Linked DNA regions of Homo sapiens: region 2 is linked to region 1. Evidence: fine-mapped expression QTL. Tissue or cell type: esophagus muscle. Region 1 holds a variant in brackets; the other region holds the start of a gene. All regions are shown on one strand. Distances are from middle to middle.

The links. PIP is the estimated chance that this variant, and not a neighbour inherited with it, causes the effect.
Region 2: UNC13B starts here. The variant in region 1 is fine-mapped to the expression of UNC13B in esophagus muscle (GTEx, PIP above 0.99).

What each region holds. Positions count from the first base shown.
Region 1 is chr9:35,334,320-35,342,422 of GRCh38, reverse strand. All of the region lies in intron 11 of UNC13B (unc-13 homolog B), which reads right to left. Among named protein-coding and RNA genes, the nearest start is that of RUSC2, 150 kb to the left of the region's middle. RefSeq lists a silencer at 6,897-7,191. The variant G/A (reference allele first, on the strand shown) is at 4,734.
Region 2 is chr9:35,157,037-35,165,139 of GRCh38, reverse strand. UNC13B (unc-13 homolog B) reads right to left here and starts at 3,131. Exons shown (of 40, transcript NM_001371189.2): 1 at 2,835-3,131. The coding sequence starts at 2,856. RefSeq lists a silencer at 3,136-3,265 and an enhancer at 6,772-7,325.

The DNA.
Region 1 (8,103 bases):
CTCCATATTCCACCCACAAATGCTTTCCTTTTGCCCTGCTTGTTGTTCAGTCAGTCATACACACTCGGTACCACTTACCTTGCTGCTGCAACCAAAATAAGGGTTAAGGAAATTAAAAAAAAAAATTAAAACCATGAATTCTCAAGTTTTAGAAGGCAAATGCTGTCTTTAAGAGGAAATCCATCCAGGAGCACTCCTTGGTTTGACAGAGAAGCCACAGGACGAACTTTCTGAGCCAAAGCACCACTGCTTGCCCAACCGACAAACAGACCCAAGGAGCTAATATTCTCAGTTGCACCCAGCTGGCTGGCTCCACGGCACAAAGTTGATGACAGAAACAATGCCCTGCAAAAAAACCCCTCAGTGAAGGGCTTGGCAGGAGTCTCACTGGCTGCAAACGTAGAAATCTAACCTGGTCCACACCTCTCTGGCAAGGGGGATTCTGAGATCAGCCTGCTGAAGGCAACAGCAGCCAAACTTCAACTGGATGTGGAATTCTAACTCAATCGATTCTGGGCTTTGAGACTGAGGCAGAAAGCAGGGCAGCTCCTGCTCCTGCTGCTGCTCCTCCTCCTCTCCAGCTGCTTCCTGCCTGCAACCTCCCATAGGGCACCAGCCCTCCTCACACGTTCCTGGCGCACACACCCCCTTCCCAGCACACTCACGCACACACAACCCTTGCCAGCAAGCTCACTCACACACCCTTGGTAAGTGTCTCTCCCTTTTGCTAAATATAGATCTTACTCTCTCCCCTCCTCCATTTCCTTCCCTCGTTCTTCTCCTCCCTGCTTTCTTTTCCCCTATCCACCTCTCTCACATCTGGGCTATAGGATATAAACAGACACAGATGGAGACCTATACTTTCAGGAGCTCCTAGTCTCAGAGGGAAGCCGGAACACAGCATGCCAGCCGTGGAACTGCTGGAGCACAATACAAAGGGAGTCTTCCCTTCTACTGAGACAAGCTCTAAGTTGGTTGGTTGGTTGGTTTCGTGTATATATAATCTGTTGTCAGCATTTGGCAAAGCTGAAGGATAGGTACAGTGATCAAGTGCAGTTAAAATCAAACAGTGCCATGTTCTTGGAGTAGACATCTATTCCAGTTCTTACTGAACAACCACCACAAGAGAATCAACTGGAAAATAAGAGCTCCCTCAGGCTATGCCAAAGCAACAACCCGAGAGAAGGAGGGGAAGTTAGGTGAGCTGAGATGAACTCTGTATTGCAGAAGTCTAGACCAAAGATGGTTTCAGAATCCAGAATTAGGAACGAAGTAACCTAAAGTGATATCACCATGACCAAAAAGCTGCCTAAGGTTCAGGGCCCCTTTTATGACCCCAAATTTCATAACCCTTCTTTGCCAATGGATGCCCTATCTCCCTGGAGACTCACTAGCCAGGTGGCTCTCATGTGACCCTAATTCCTAATAATTCAACAATTCTAGTTAGGACTCACTGGGAAATTGAATGTCCTTATCTTCAAAGAACACTCAAGTTGTTCACTGCAACATAATGTCCGAGCACAAGCCAGGACCCCTTGAAGCTCTGTAGCATAAAATGCCAAATACATGAAATGTGATATCCCCTTTCCACTCTGCAACCATAGGACATGAAAAACATCGCATAATGAACCTAGATAACCTCAGAATCCTTCTCAATATAGAGCTCGATCAGCCAGTAACAATCCAGTGAAGTCATTCCTCTTCTGACTCCCCTGAGCTTGATCTTAAGAGAAAAGGCCCTCTTCCTCCTTAGGCCAACAGTACGTGGGCAAGTTTGATTTACCCAGCATGCCCAAACCAGGCTCTCAAACCTTGTGACTTCTGCTGCCCTGCAACATTCCTCATGGCAATCCACAACAGAGTATGGCCTCTTTAGCCCACAAACCAGGTAGTCAGTCTATGGGGACCATCCTAGGATCTGCCATTGCAGAACAGGCAGCCCTTTATGGTAGATAAAACAAGCATTTAAATTAAGAATGATTTGTTTGGCTTATCCAAGATCCTGAGAAGAAAGGGTTGATTTCAGAGCCAACATGTGCCTCCCTACTGCCTTCTTCCAATAACATTGCTTCCCCCTCAACCAAGGAAGAAAATTTAGATTCCAAGAGATGCTAAACAACCCATTTCTTAGCCATCCACCTCATTACACAGCCAACACTAACAGCAGAGCACATACCTCCTAACCTAGTTGGGAGCTGGCTAGATGACAGAAGAGATAAGGCCTGACAGCACAACTATAACCGCATCTAAACACAGAGGAAAAAAATAACTTGAAAACTGTCAAGTTTCTGTGGAAGTCACAGCCAATTTACTGTGGAGTTTCCCATCCTTCAGCCAGGAGAAGGAGGTAAAAGGTTTAAAACAAGAAATATAGGGAAGATTGATTAAATTAGAATTCCCTCCCCCAAATCTGCAGCCACTCATAAAGAGCCCAGAACAGTGGCTGTCACTATCAGGTTTGGTCAGGCTTCCTAGGCTAAGGAGAAGCTCAAACTTTCAAGAGTGGGAAAGATTCCCCAGAGGTAGGACCCTGCTAAAAGAACCTACTTCTTCCTGCCTAATTGACAAAGTGGCCCTAAGGCCTGGCTAAGGCCTCCAGATGGCATTTCTGAGGCTAATGGAACCCACCCTGTCTTGTCACCCAAACACATCCAGCCCATTTTTCTAAGCAGCTTGGGCTTTCCAGAAAAACAAAGGCTCAGGCAGTAGAAGACGTGGTTAGCACATGAGGCACAACAAATCTGCCATCTCCAGTTACAATCTTCAAACTTCACAGGAGAGCTCATGCAGCTTTGACCACAAATTACCTTTGTATCTATCCACCTTCCCATGTTCCAGCAAAAGCAAGAAACAGAGTAAGTGGGGAAGTGGCAAACAGTCAGTGGAAGCTCTTGTAAAAGAGCATGGCCCCTTCTGCCACTGTTCTACAGGGCCCACAGAGTGCCAGACACCACATGGCCAAAGGACATCAGGACTCCTCAGTGGACTAGCTCTTTGGGACAAGCAGGCAATTTGTTTTGTGAGCCACATGGGCAACAATGCAGCCCCCTCATCACAGTGGATCTGGCCCTGGGGAAGCCTGAGTAGGCCGAAAGGATGGGGTGCTTTTTAGAGGTAAGAAATAGCACAGCACCCACCTCAGTTGGGAAGCTTCCTCAAAGTAGGCTGCTCAGGAGCTAGCTGGGCAGAACTGGAAAAACAGATTGGGTTAAGAAGGAAAAGGCATTTATCCAGAAGCTGTGAAATGCTCTGAACAGACATTCTCAAGGTCTGGTTCCCAATTTAAATCCTTGCAGGGATCTTCGCCTAGAGACAGATGAGTCAAGATGGAAACTCAACATGATACACTGACACTCACGCAGAGTTGTGGGAAGGTTCAGACCTGCAGGAGTTCTAAAGGGGAGCCGAATGGGTGGGTTAGTCAGAAAACCACCTGGCATACAAAATTCATCTTCAGCTAAAGCAACTGAGTGGTGTCACAGAAATACTGGAGGAGGGCCTCACCAATCACAATTCTCCCTACTCATACAAACCAGTCTAAGTCTCCCTGACGTCAGATACAACTGGTCTAGAAGCAAAGAATATGCCTGCTCCAAACCTGGCCTGCCTTTTCAGGTGTCAATGCCAGAGACAGGCTGGGTCAGGACCAGCAGGTGCTTACCTTATTGTCCAATATCAACACAGACGCAGAGTACAAAGGATGGGTGCGGCCAATATCTATATCATGCAAGAGTCAGCTTGTGACTGTTTTCCTTCTCTACTGCTGAGGAAAGCCAGAAGCAACATGAAAAAGCTGACATATAGTCACACAGCTGGGATTTATTTCATGAGGAAGATGATTTTTCTGGTGGCTAAGAAAAGTCATTTTTCCCGCTGTAGAATGATGCCCTCCCTACACCATGGAGAAAGCATATGCAGCAGAGAATGACGGGCAGCAGGAGGTAATCCTGCTCCTTCCCTGAGGAGCATGCCATCCTAGGGGAGTGACAAGCCTGGCAGAGATGTGCTGACTTTACTGATGCACTAAGACATAGCTGCTTTGTTACCTAAACAGACCCGACAAGCTGCAAGGCAGGCCCTAAGAGTCATAAATTGCTGACAAGTCTTAGTCCTACAATCAGGTCAAGGACCATCCCTGATTAGCAGAAACTTGAACATAAGGAGCTGATAAACTTCTTGGAACTGGCCAGCTAACCAGTTAGGTTTTCAGCCTGTACCTCCAAAGGCTGTGGCCCCCTATCTATTTCAGGACCAAATAATTAACAATTCATGATCATAAGAAACCTATATGTCTACTGCCCTCTCACATAAACCCGATCAAAAGTCACAGCTCCCAGATTTAGGACTAATGCCGGTCCTAAAGTAGTATTTGTTTATATATATATCCCAGCCCAAGCCACAGAGTGCATTGGCCCTGCCTCAATCTCTATACCCAAAGGAAACAAAGAGGCCATATACCGAGGATCCTCTAAAAGGAATCCAAAATTTGACATCCCAGGGAGAAATGAACCTCTTGTACTAAGTGGAGACTAACTGGGTTAATATTGATCAAATATCCCCTCAGTTCTTTATGGCTTGTTCTAAGATACATCTAAGAATAAGATATAGGGCAAACCCAAATCTGGAGAATTCTCCTGGCTTAGGCCCCTGTTTCTATAGTCTTGTGGAAATATGTCCCTAACCAGCAGATGAGTTTCAAGTGTCTTCACATTCAATGAAGGGATCCCAAAGAG[G/A]TGGGTTTTTCCCTACAGGATTCTCCAAATATTCAAAAGTATCTGATATGAGGTACTGAATTACAGGAAGGTAGCTAATGTACAAAGGGGAAAAGAAGACTTAATGAAGGCGTATCCTTCACTGGGGATCTCTGACAGTAAGAGGGAAGCATGGTGGAAAGAAAGGGAAGCACTCAACTAGGTAAGTCTGAAGAGAGAACTACGTGTTTAGAGGACTAGGCTGCCAGCTCACCCATATCAACCCATGCAGAGATGACTTCTCTGCTCAGATACTGGATCATTGGAATCCATATATTCTAATTCTTTACCCAGTGAGAGAAGCCCCTGCAAAGCCCTTTGTGCCTCTGCCATAATCTATTTTACCTTCTTATCTATCAGTGTCTCCTCTGCAATCTTTAGTCCAGGCTTATTTCTCACTTCAACTACTGCAAAATATTCATTCTCCCTAGACTCCATTCCTCCAGAACCACCTCCCACTCACTCCTCTTTACCCTTGATCCGTGATGCACAATTTGCTAGGGGGATATTTCTAAGATGTACATAAGTTTTTGTCACTCATTTTCTTAAAATCCGTCAGTGACTGTGAAAAAAAAAAAAGTCCTAGTTCTTTACATGTTATCAAAGTTCTTTCTTGACCTGCCCATGTCTAGAGGAATTTGGCTTCCCAACACCCTAACTTTAGTCAAAGCAAACCCCTTGCACTCACTTAATGTGCCATCTCATCCTTTCTGTTTCCAGATGGCCCTATGTAGAGTGCCATCAGAGAGTAAACATCAGGATGGTGAGAAGGTAGGAACCTTTTCAAGTGCTTTGTCAGAAGATAAGACTTGTAAATAAACATGAAAAACTACTTTGGTACCTGTAATGGGTTGAATTGCCTGAACGTCTGTGTCACTCCAAAATTCATATGTTAAAATCCTAACCCTCAAGGTGATGACATTAGGAGGTGAGCCTTTGGGGAGGTGAACAGATCATGAAGGCAGAGCCCTAATGAATGGGATTAGTGCCTTTATAAAAGAGGCCCACAGGAGTTCTTTTGCCCCTTCCACCAGCTACTTGGGAAGCTGAGGTGGGAAGATAACCTAAGATATCCTAAGCCCAGGGCGTCAAGGCAGCAGTGAGCCATGATCACACCACTGCACTTCAACCTGGGTGACAGAGCGAGACTCTTTCTCGAAAAAATAAAATAAATAAAAAACAAAAAATAAATGAACACCTATTAAGTAACAACATCTTGTTAACAGGCGTAATGAAAAGATACAATCCTTGCCCTTAAGAAGTTCATAACCTAACGGGGGAAATGTTAAAGCAAGAGGCATTGTTATACCCATGTTATATATTCTGAGGGAGAGGAGTGTTAGATTTTATGTTTGACGGGGTAGTAAGAAAGGATATATAGAAGAGGAAGTGGAGGAGAAAAAAAAGATGGTAAGTACGGTTTGAACACATTGTATGAAGTGGCTATGAACATTCAGGTGACAATATCCACAGGAAGCTGGATAAAAAAGTCTGGAACTCATGAAAGAGGACTGAGGTAGAGATAGTAATTTGGGATTTATCAGTTACAGGTTAGGACATGGATGAGATTAACTAGAAAAGAAAATGAGGTAGAAAACAAAGCCTGGGAATTATCAAGTTTTAAGGGGCAAGCAGAGAAAGAGAAATGCTATGAAGAAATCAAAGATGGGGCCAGGCGCAGTGACTCAGGCCTGTAATCCCACCACTTATGGAGGCTGAAGTAGAAGGACTGAGGCCAGGAGTTCAAGACCAGCCTGGGCAACATAGGGGGACCCCCATCTCTACAAGAAAAATTTAAAAATTAGCCAGGTCTGGTGGCACATCCTTGTAGTCCTAGCTATTCTAATCCCAGCTACTTGGAGGCTGAAGCAGGAGGTCTGCCTGAGCCCAGGAGTTCGAGGTTACAGTGAGCCGTGATTGTGCCACTGCACTCCAGCTTGAGTGACAGACCAAGACCCCTTTAAAAAAAAAAAAAAAGGCCAAGAAGGAAGAATATTTTAGAGAGAAATCAGTCAACAGTTTTATCTCATCTGTCGTTAACAAATGCTCCAGGAGGTTGGTTTTCATCTAAAATGATCTTCCTAACTTGTCTTCTTTGGCTGTTTAAGTCTGAGTGTTCTCAGGTGAGGACTGAATAAACACATTTCCTTAGCATGCTTGAAGGTGACAACCAGCAAAGAGAAGAAGCAGCTTAAAGAATGGGCTACAACTTACCTCTTTCCCTTTGGCTTCAGGAAGTTTACTGAAGTCTTACAATATGACTGTACTTCAGGGCATAGTGGTAAATAGCAGCTGCATTGTCCACAGGAAGAATGCAACATGCCACTTGCAAGAGGCCATGGATCTCCCCCATGGCATATGCTTGCAAACACAGGAAGCAAGTTATCCCTTGATTTCCATCTTTAGAAGCTCATGTTATTTTATTTCTTGGCCATTTCCTGATACTTAACTGCTAACTTAGTATTCTCTGGGAATTCCTCTGAGAAGACTTCTCTGATCACCCTAATCCAAAGGGCTTGTTCCTTAAAGTCCTGTGGCAACTATTTTCAGTTAAAAGACTTAATTATTTCTTTTGCAATCAGTTACTTAGGGCCGTGTAATACCACTTAATTTTTTTAATTTTTTATTTGTTTTGAGACGGAGTCTCACTCTTGTCACCCAGCTGGAATGCAGTGGCGCGATCTCGGCTCACTGCAACCTCCACCTCCCGGGTTCAAGTGATTCTCCTCTCTCAGCCTCCTGAGTAGCTGGGATTACAGGTGCCCGCCACCAAGCCCGGATAATTTTTGTACTTTTAGTAGAGATGGGGGTTTCGCCATGTTGGCCAGGCTGGTCTGGAACTCCTGACCTCAGGTGATCCACTCGCCTCAGCCTCCCAAAGTGCTGGGATTACAGGCGTGAGCCACCGCGCCCGGCCACCTAATATTTTTAAGTGTTCATTCCATAAATCTTTGCTGAGTTTTTACTAAGTATCAGGAGGAATTGATGCTAAGAATTGGTGATCAGTTCTTGACCTCAAGAGCAATCTAGCAAAGGATTTAAAGCCTGTAAGTATGCAAGGAAAATACACGTAGAAAGCCAAAATAATAAGAAAATAAGTGGCCAGGAATGGGGTCTTCCCTGAACTGTTTTTCTACCTACATGCACTAGGGATATTAGGCAGAGAAGATACTCCAGGTGAATGTCTACTCTTAATTCCTAAGACTTGAGACTCAAACATCTGCATGGCCTTTTACCTTGATAAGCCAAGCTGGGCCAAAAGACGTCTTTAGCAGAAGAGGTTTTTAACCATTTCAAAAGGCAGGTCAAACAGTCTGCAACTTAAACTTTAGCCCCTGGGCCCATATTTTTT
Region 2 (8,103 bases), 180 kb after region 1:
GATCCTCTTCCTCTTAAATCTTCTACAACTAAATTTCCCATATTCTTCAAATGGTTCGGTTCCTACATGTTTCATTATTCTAATCACTCCCCTCTTAAGATAACCTAGCTTCTCAATATGCTTCTTAGAAGGAAATACCACAGCTGAACACAAAATTCCAGATCTGATCTGACCAGTGCAATTACTTCCTTTGTCTGGGTCACCATAAGCACCACAATACAAGACCAGTTGCAGGCAGCATATGATTCATTTCCAAACTAGTGGCACTGTTCAGACCACAAGTGCTCCGAGGATTTAAAGGAAAAAGAGATCACTGTGGACTGGGGACCTGAAGAAGTTTTCAACAACAAAAAAAGTAGACTGTTAGCTGGGAAAGTAAGAATACATTTTAGATAGGCAGAAAATATGGAACGAGTATTTCAGGGGGCACAAGTGCAGAACAGAGCAGAGGCAGGAATAAACAAAGTTAGTGCTAGAGCAAAGTCTGCATAAGGATAGGCAAGAATAGAAGGCCACAAGTCTGGAGTCAGAGTATTGAGAGCCTTAAACCTGCAGGCAATAAGGCATGATTAAAGGGCAAGACAAAATAACTGACTTCTTGAATGAAATGTTTAGGAATGATTAATTCAATACCAGTTTGCCAATTTCTACATCAAGTTAACTACTTTTTGAACTCTGCATAGGAAGTTTCTAATTGATTCTACTCCAAGATGAATTGAAATTGAGTTGTAATAAATATCACTATATAGACTGCTTTCAGAATACAACATTCCTACTGCCAAAATACAACGCAAGGAATGTCATTTTAGAAAGATGTATTTTGTGCTGGGTGCAGTGGATTATGCCTCTAATCCCAGCACTTTGGAAGGCCAAGGCAGATGGATCACTTGAGGTCAGAAGTTCAAGACCAGCCTAGCCAACACAGTGAAACTCTGTCTCTACAAAAAATACAAAAATTAGCCGGGCCTGGTGGTTCACTCCTGTAATTCCAGCTGCTCGGGAGGCTGAGGCATGAGAATCACTTGAACCCAGGAGGTGGAGGTTGCAGTGAGCCAAGATCGCAGCACTGCACTCCAGCCTGGGTGACAGAATGAGACTCTGTCTCAAAAAAAGAAAAAGAAATAAAAATAAAGATGTATTTCAATTCATTTCTGTAAGTTTTCCCAAAATGAATACTTTGCCATTCAATATGAATATCTGCATATAAGGTACCTGTTTGTTTCAGTATTTAAAATCTTCTAGATCTCTATTCAAAAAGACAATGGCCTGCTGATCTCGTTTCTCCAGATTCAAAAAAGAAGAAACTTCACTAAAGTAACATTAAAAAGGAAAGAAGTTAGCTAAATAGCAGAATTTCTAGACAATGAAACCTGCCTGCTATTAAAACAAATGAAAACACCAGTAGTTATATAAATTCAGTTAAATAGGAATTTCTGATTCACGAGTGCTCCTGCCTAAAGAGTCTTTCATAAGGACCAGCTCTGTAATACAGTGTGGCCGTAGAGAATTAAACTGTCCAAGAGACACAGCAAAGTCCAACCTCTCCCAAATCCTGCTACTCAGCAGCAGGGATCTAAAGGAATAAATAGATTCCCAGCTGCTGAGAGAAAATGTCTTACTAAAAGCAAAGCAAAATTCTCATTAATGAAAAATCAACCATGAAAGAAGAAAAACTGTATATCTCATAATCCCGGGAAATGGCCAAATCCATTTTGGTTAATGCAGATTCAACAAAATAGTGGAAGAGAACAGAGCAAAGCAGTTTCATCTGCCAGTAGCTGGGGGAAACATCGTTATTGGAGAAATCACAAACAACAACAATGCTTCTAATCTGTAGAGCCAAAAGAAATATGAACTCTCCAGTAAAAGATATCAGGTAAAGGCTCTAGTTGATAAATGCTCTCTCATTCATAATCAAGACACATCAGATATGATAGGCTGTAACCTGAATTTCCCGAGATCAAATTCAATGGCTAATCCAAACCCTGTGTTTTCCTGATCAGATAATCTCTCTGAAGTCACAGTACTTGCATTCATTCAAAACCAGCATTAAGCTTCTACTACGTCAGACACCAGGAATACAAAAACTAATAAGAAACAGTCTCTACCCACATAGAACTTAGTTCGCGTACCATGCCTCATCTTAAACCCCAAAGCTCTTGCTTTAAGATATCTTCTTAGATGGGTCAAGTGTCCTCAGGGGAAAAGCAATAATGGCCCTTCACCTTGAGTTACTGTGAGGCAAGCTAAAATAAAAATAAAAATAAATCATACCTCTTATCCTCAAAAGCAGTCACCACATCCTCCCAAGTGGAACAGAAGAATAATCTTAGCCTATACTACCGGTTAGTGTTCAGGGAAGTGGCAGGGGACAAGACAAGCAATAGAAGGGATGTGACAGCTGTACCACTAACGCATTCAAAGTGTGATAAAAAGAACCTGCTACTAAGCATACTGTAGCGTTACGGTGCGAGGAGGAGGAAAAGAATGAGAGGCTGCCCACCATTCACAGGCACCAACCATCCGCGGTCTTCTAACTCGTCCACTCTCACTAGAGAACCCCAGTCACTGTTTAATAGGATCTGAGCCTGCAGTCCAACAACATTGTCACATGGCTACCAGAATGGAGAGCTAATCGTCCCTTGCAGGAGCTTGGGGGAAAACAAGAAAGTGGAAAGAACTCAAGTGATTGTTAAGTGATTGCCAAAATAATAGACCCCCAAAGCACGGACGGGATGTAAAGTTTGGGTGAGACGGTCACCGGACGTCCACTGGAAGGGTGCGGGGACCTCTACGCCGACACCCCGCCTCCCCGCCTCAGTCCGCGCACTCACCGCGCACGCAGAGCAGTGACATGGCCGAGGATCGGGCAAGCCTCTGCCGCGCCCCAGCCGCGCCGGACCGCTCCCTCTTTCCTCTCAGCAGGTGCCGCGACTGCTCTCGTTACCGGCCCCACGGGTCTGGCAGCTCCTCATGGTCCCGGTCGCAGGTAGCGTCCCGCCGCTGCCTCGGACCCGCCCCAAATCTCACCGTCTGAGCGAACTCCGGGTAGCGGTGAGTACCGGCCGGCAGGCTGGGGACTGGGCGCGGCACAGCGACGCCATCGCTGGGAGGTAGGAGCTGCCGGGACTCCCTCCCGTCATTCCACCCGGGATCCGCGCGAGCGCCTGGGCGGAGCCAACCCGTGGTGCCCCGCCCCCCAGCCAATTAACTCACGCCCAGTCCACCGACCCCGCCCCCCCCCGCGAGCACGTAGGAGGCGGGGTCCCCTTCCTCCTTTCTTTCTTGCGATCCTGAAGGAAGCTCCGCCCACTAATCAGGCTTACTGCAGGGAGCAAGGGGTTGACCCTCAGTTGTGTGACGCGAGAATGGAAGCCCTCTGTTCCTCCTGCATGAGCGGGGCTTCCACCCAAGAACAGATTCTTTTCATTGAAGGATTTCCACTGGACTTTCTTAGAGTCTAGCGGTCATAGCTGACAGCCTGTAATTTTAAGTTAACGAAGTCGCACCGCACAGCAAAGTTAAGTTTTGTTTAGCAACTAGGGCAAAAGACAAAACTGAGTGGGCATAAAGTATGTCTGGAGACCTCAGTTCTTATCTAGACCGTTTTTTATGCTCATCATTGTATCTCCAATGTCTGGAATAGTGCCTAGTGTATGGTAATCAGTCCGTAAATATTTACTGAATGAAGGATGGTAACCACGGAGGGATTGTGAGTGGAGATACCTCTGATCTTTGACAAATCTCCTATCCATGCTTGGTACCAACATGAGCTAACTCCATGGCTCAAACCAACAGGACAATTTGCTAAGGTCTAGGAGCACCCCCTCCAGAGAATCCCTGATCTCCCAAAATTTGGTCGAGATCTAAAGTTCATTTTGTTGTACAACTCCCTCTATTATTATTATTATTATTATTATTATTATTATTATTTTGGAGTTTTACTTGCTTCCAACAAGGAAGGCAAGTTTTCCTGCTTCCATGACGAGGGAAGGCAGGTAACTCTTTTATGGAGTTTGAGCTCACTTCCAACAGGGAAGATGAGGGGTTTTTTTCCTACTTCTGGGATGGTAGACAGCCGTTTTCAGCCTGAGACGCACCCCTAGGTAAGTAGCTGAATAGGGATTTTTGTCTTGGCTAAAGTTAACAACCAGCTGGTCTTAATTTCTGCTTACCATTAGAGTGCTCAGTGATCATATTGTTGGGTTTTTTTTTATTTTGTTTGTCTTTTTCCCATTGACCAACTCTACTTCACTTGGTCAAATCCAAGTGAGAATTCCAAATTATGGGTAACAAGGCCTATCTAATTTGAGTAAAATTCCTCACAGCTGCAAAAGAAAAAACAAACAGAAAACAAAAAACCATGTATTTGGTTTCTGTGTTTGCTTCCTGGTCTTAAAAATTAAACTGTTCTTAGGCCGGGCGCGGTGGCTCACACCTGTAATCCTAGCACTTTGGGAGGCCGAGGCGGGCGGATCACGAGGTCAGGAGTTCAAGGCCAGCCTGGCCAACATAGTGAAACCCTGTCTCTACTGAAAATACAAAAAAAATTAGCCGGGCATGGTGGCGGGTGCCTGTAATCCCAGCTACTCGGGAGGCTGAGGCAGGAGAATTGCTTGAACCAGGAGGCGCAGGTTGCAGTGAGTGGAGATCGAGCCATTGCACTCCAGCCTGAGCTACAGTGTGAGACTCTGTCTCAAATTAAAAAAAAAAAAAAAAAAAATTCAATTGTTCTTTTGTTTACTTTTCTTCCACCCTATACCTCCTTCACCCTTTGCCATCTGCATTACCAAAAAATCGAGAGAAGGCTTCTAATGACTTGAACCTCTTTAAAGAATTTAGGCCGGGCGCCATGGTTCACGCCTGTAATCCCAGCACTTTGGGAGGCCGAGGTGGGCGGATCACGAGGTCAGGAGTTCGAGACTCAGCCTCGCCAACATGATGAAACCCTGTCTCGACTAAAGATACAAAAAAAGTTAGCCAGGCATGGTGGCACGTGCCTGTAATCCCAGCTACTCAGGAGGCAGAGGCAGGAGAATCACTTGAACCTGGGAGGCGGAGGTTGCAGTGAGCTGAGATCGTGCCATTGCACTCCAGCCTGGGTGACAGGGCAAGACTCTATCTCAAAAAAAAAAAAAGAATTTAGAACAAAGGTGCCACTCACCCCCTTTTGGGGTGTTCTCTTGGCTTTGTGGGATTTCAAGAGTCATGGGCAGATTCTTCTTAGGTCTAAAGCTCTGTTTTCCTGTATTGCATGACCTGACCTTTTTGGCTTTGGGTGCCAGAGATGACCTTGCACTGTGAGAGGATTTGACCTTGGTGTGTATATTGTTGGAAAAGAGCTACAAAGTTACGGGTGGCTGAGCACAGTTTATAGGAAGTGGTTTTGGCTGTTTCCTTTTTTTTTTTTTTTTTTTTTTTTAATTTTCTCTCCTAGGAAGTCGTTGTTTAAGAATCCTAATTCTAGGCCAGGTGCGGTGGTTCACACCTGTAATCCCAGCACTTTGGGAGGCTGAGGCGGGCGGACCACTTGACCCCACAAGTTCAAGATTAGCCGGGCCTGGTGGTGTGCACCTGTAATCCCAGCTATTCGAAGGCTGAGGTAGGGCAATTGCTTGAACCAGGGAGGTGGAAGTTGCACTGTGCCGAGATCGTGCCACTGCACTCAGCCTGGGCGACAGAGCGAGACTCCATCTCAAAAAAAAAAAAAAATCCTAATTCTAGTTTGGAGATCCGTTCTGAAGGATCCTTTATATTGCTTTTTCTCCCAACATTAATCTCAATTCCGTTTGTCTGTGTGCATTTGCATGAGGAACTGAACTGTTGCTTTCATAGGTATATCAGAGACTGAGTTTTCTCAGCTCCAAAAAGAAAGGGCATTTGCCCCTCCCAACTGAAAGGTGCCCCTGAGTGACTGGGGACCTTGTGGGAGTGTCTGAAAGGTTGACCCCGAACGATGTGCAGTGGTCCTGCAGGGAAATCCCCAACAAAAATTAATTTAGGCCAGGTGCGGTCACACACACATAATCCTAGCATTTCAGGAGGCCGAGGCAGGCAGATCACTTGAGGTCATGAGTTCAAGACCAAGCCTGACAAACATAGCAAAACCGCATCTCTACTAATAATACAAAAATTAGCCAGGTGTAGTGGTGCGTGCCTGTAACCCCAGTTGCTTAGGAGACTGAGACGTAAGAATTGCCCGAACCCAGAAAGTGGAGGTTGCAGTGAACCAAGATTATGCCACTGCACTCCAGCCGGGGCAACAGAGTAAGACCTTGTCTCAAAAAAATATATATATATATATTTAATTTAAAAACTGGCTCATCCAGGAAACACATTGAAGGGCTGATCACCCAGTGTTGTGAGCCCTCTCAGAAGTCATAAACCTCTGGAGAGAGAAACTGAGACATGTAAGAGGGTGGAAACCATTCAGTGGTGGCACATTGTGGAGTCCTGCCCACAAGCAGCACGTGATGATCCACCACACAGAAACTCTAAGCCACAGCTCAGTTTCTCCTTTTAAGAAAAAAAGAAGTGGAAAACAAATAATCTAAGAATGAGAAGAAAACAAGGAGAATGACCCTCTTTTGAGCACTCTGTAGGTTTTATGGCACCTCTACTGCCAAAGTTTATGTAAAATGGAAAAAATATGGTCTTTGTGCACATTTACATTAAGAAAAAAGAGCCCTAAGGTCGACCTACTAATTATAGAGTTCCTAAGACCTCTTTTCTCTATTCTTTTCTGCCTGCTCTAAATCTGCCATTATTTTCTGTTAAGATAAAAACCACAGTTTAGATCCAACAAGTTCTTTTTGCAAACCGGTAAATTTGAATTTATCTCATAGCTAAAAGTTCTGAAGTAAAAGCTATAGGATGTGTGTGTGTGTGTATTTAAAAGGCTTTTATAATTTCTATAATTTTATGTTTAATTGGCCATTAAATCTGTTTCAATTTCCGTCTAGCACACCAGACTTTTTCTCTCCACACTTTATAATGTAAATTTTGCTGTTTGGAGTTCACCTGAGTTGTTTTCTTTAATATGCAAATTTAAGGCTATTTAGCTGACAACTGCCTAGGGTTGTGAAACAGGTTATCAAGAATCTGAAAGTAGCGGGGAGGGAGGAGGGGAAAAAAAGAATCTGAAAGCCTAAGGAAAAAAAACGTTTTTTATGAATCTATAAGAGGTACCTCTAGGCCAGGTGCAGTGGTTCACGCCTGTAATCCCAACACTCTGGGAGGCCGAGGTGGGCAGATCACCTAAGGTCAAGAGTTCGAGACCAGCCTGGACAACATGGTGAAACCTGTCTCTACTAAAAATACAAAAATAGCCAGGCGTGGTGGCACATGCCTGTAGTCCCAGCTACTCGGGAGGCCGAAGCAGAAGTATCACTTGAACCCAGCGGGTAGAAGTTGCAGTGAGCTGAGATCATGCCATTGCACTCCAGCCTGGGTGACAAGAGAAAAACTCTGTCTCAAAAAAAAAAAAAAAAAGATGTACCTCTATCAGCATGCCTAATGTGTCTATGTATTTATGTGTTGTGTACACAATGTTTCACTACTGAAAATATATAAAAGAGCTCTAATTAATTGGCGTAAGAAAATAAAAGTGCTTAAATCAAACACTTATTCAGGAAAAAATAAAATAGTCAAATGCTTTTTCAAGTTTACATAACTTAAGTAAAATCTTTACTAATGTTGATGAAAAAAATCAAACTCTGTAAAATATTTGAAGAGATTTATTCTAAGCCAAATATGAGTAACCATGGCCCATGACACAGCCCTCAGGAGGTCTTGAGAACATGAGCCCCAGGTAGTTGGGGTGCAGCTTGGTTTTATAAATTTTTGGGAGGCATGAGACATCAATCAAATACATTTAAGAAATACATTGGTTTGGTCCAGAAAGACGGAACAACTCAAAGGGGGGCTTCCAGACTATAGGTAAATTTAAACATTTTCTGGTTGAAAATTGGTTGAGTTTGTCTAAAGACCAGGGATCATAGAAAGGAAATATTTAGGTTAAGAAAAAACACTGTGGAGACCAAGGTTCTTTTGAAGTCTTATAGTGGCTGCCCTTAGAGAAAATAGATGACAAATATTTCCAAT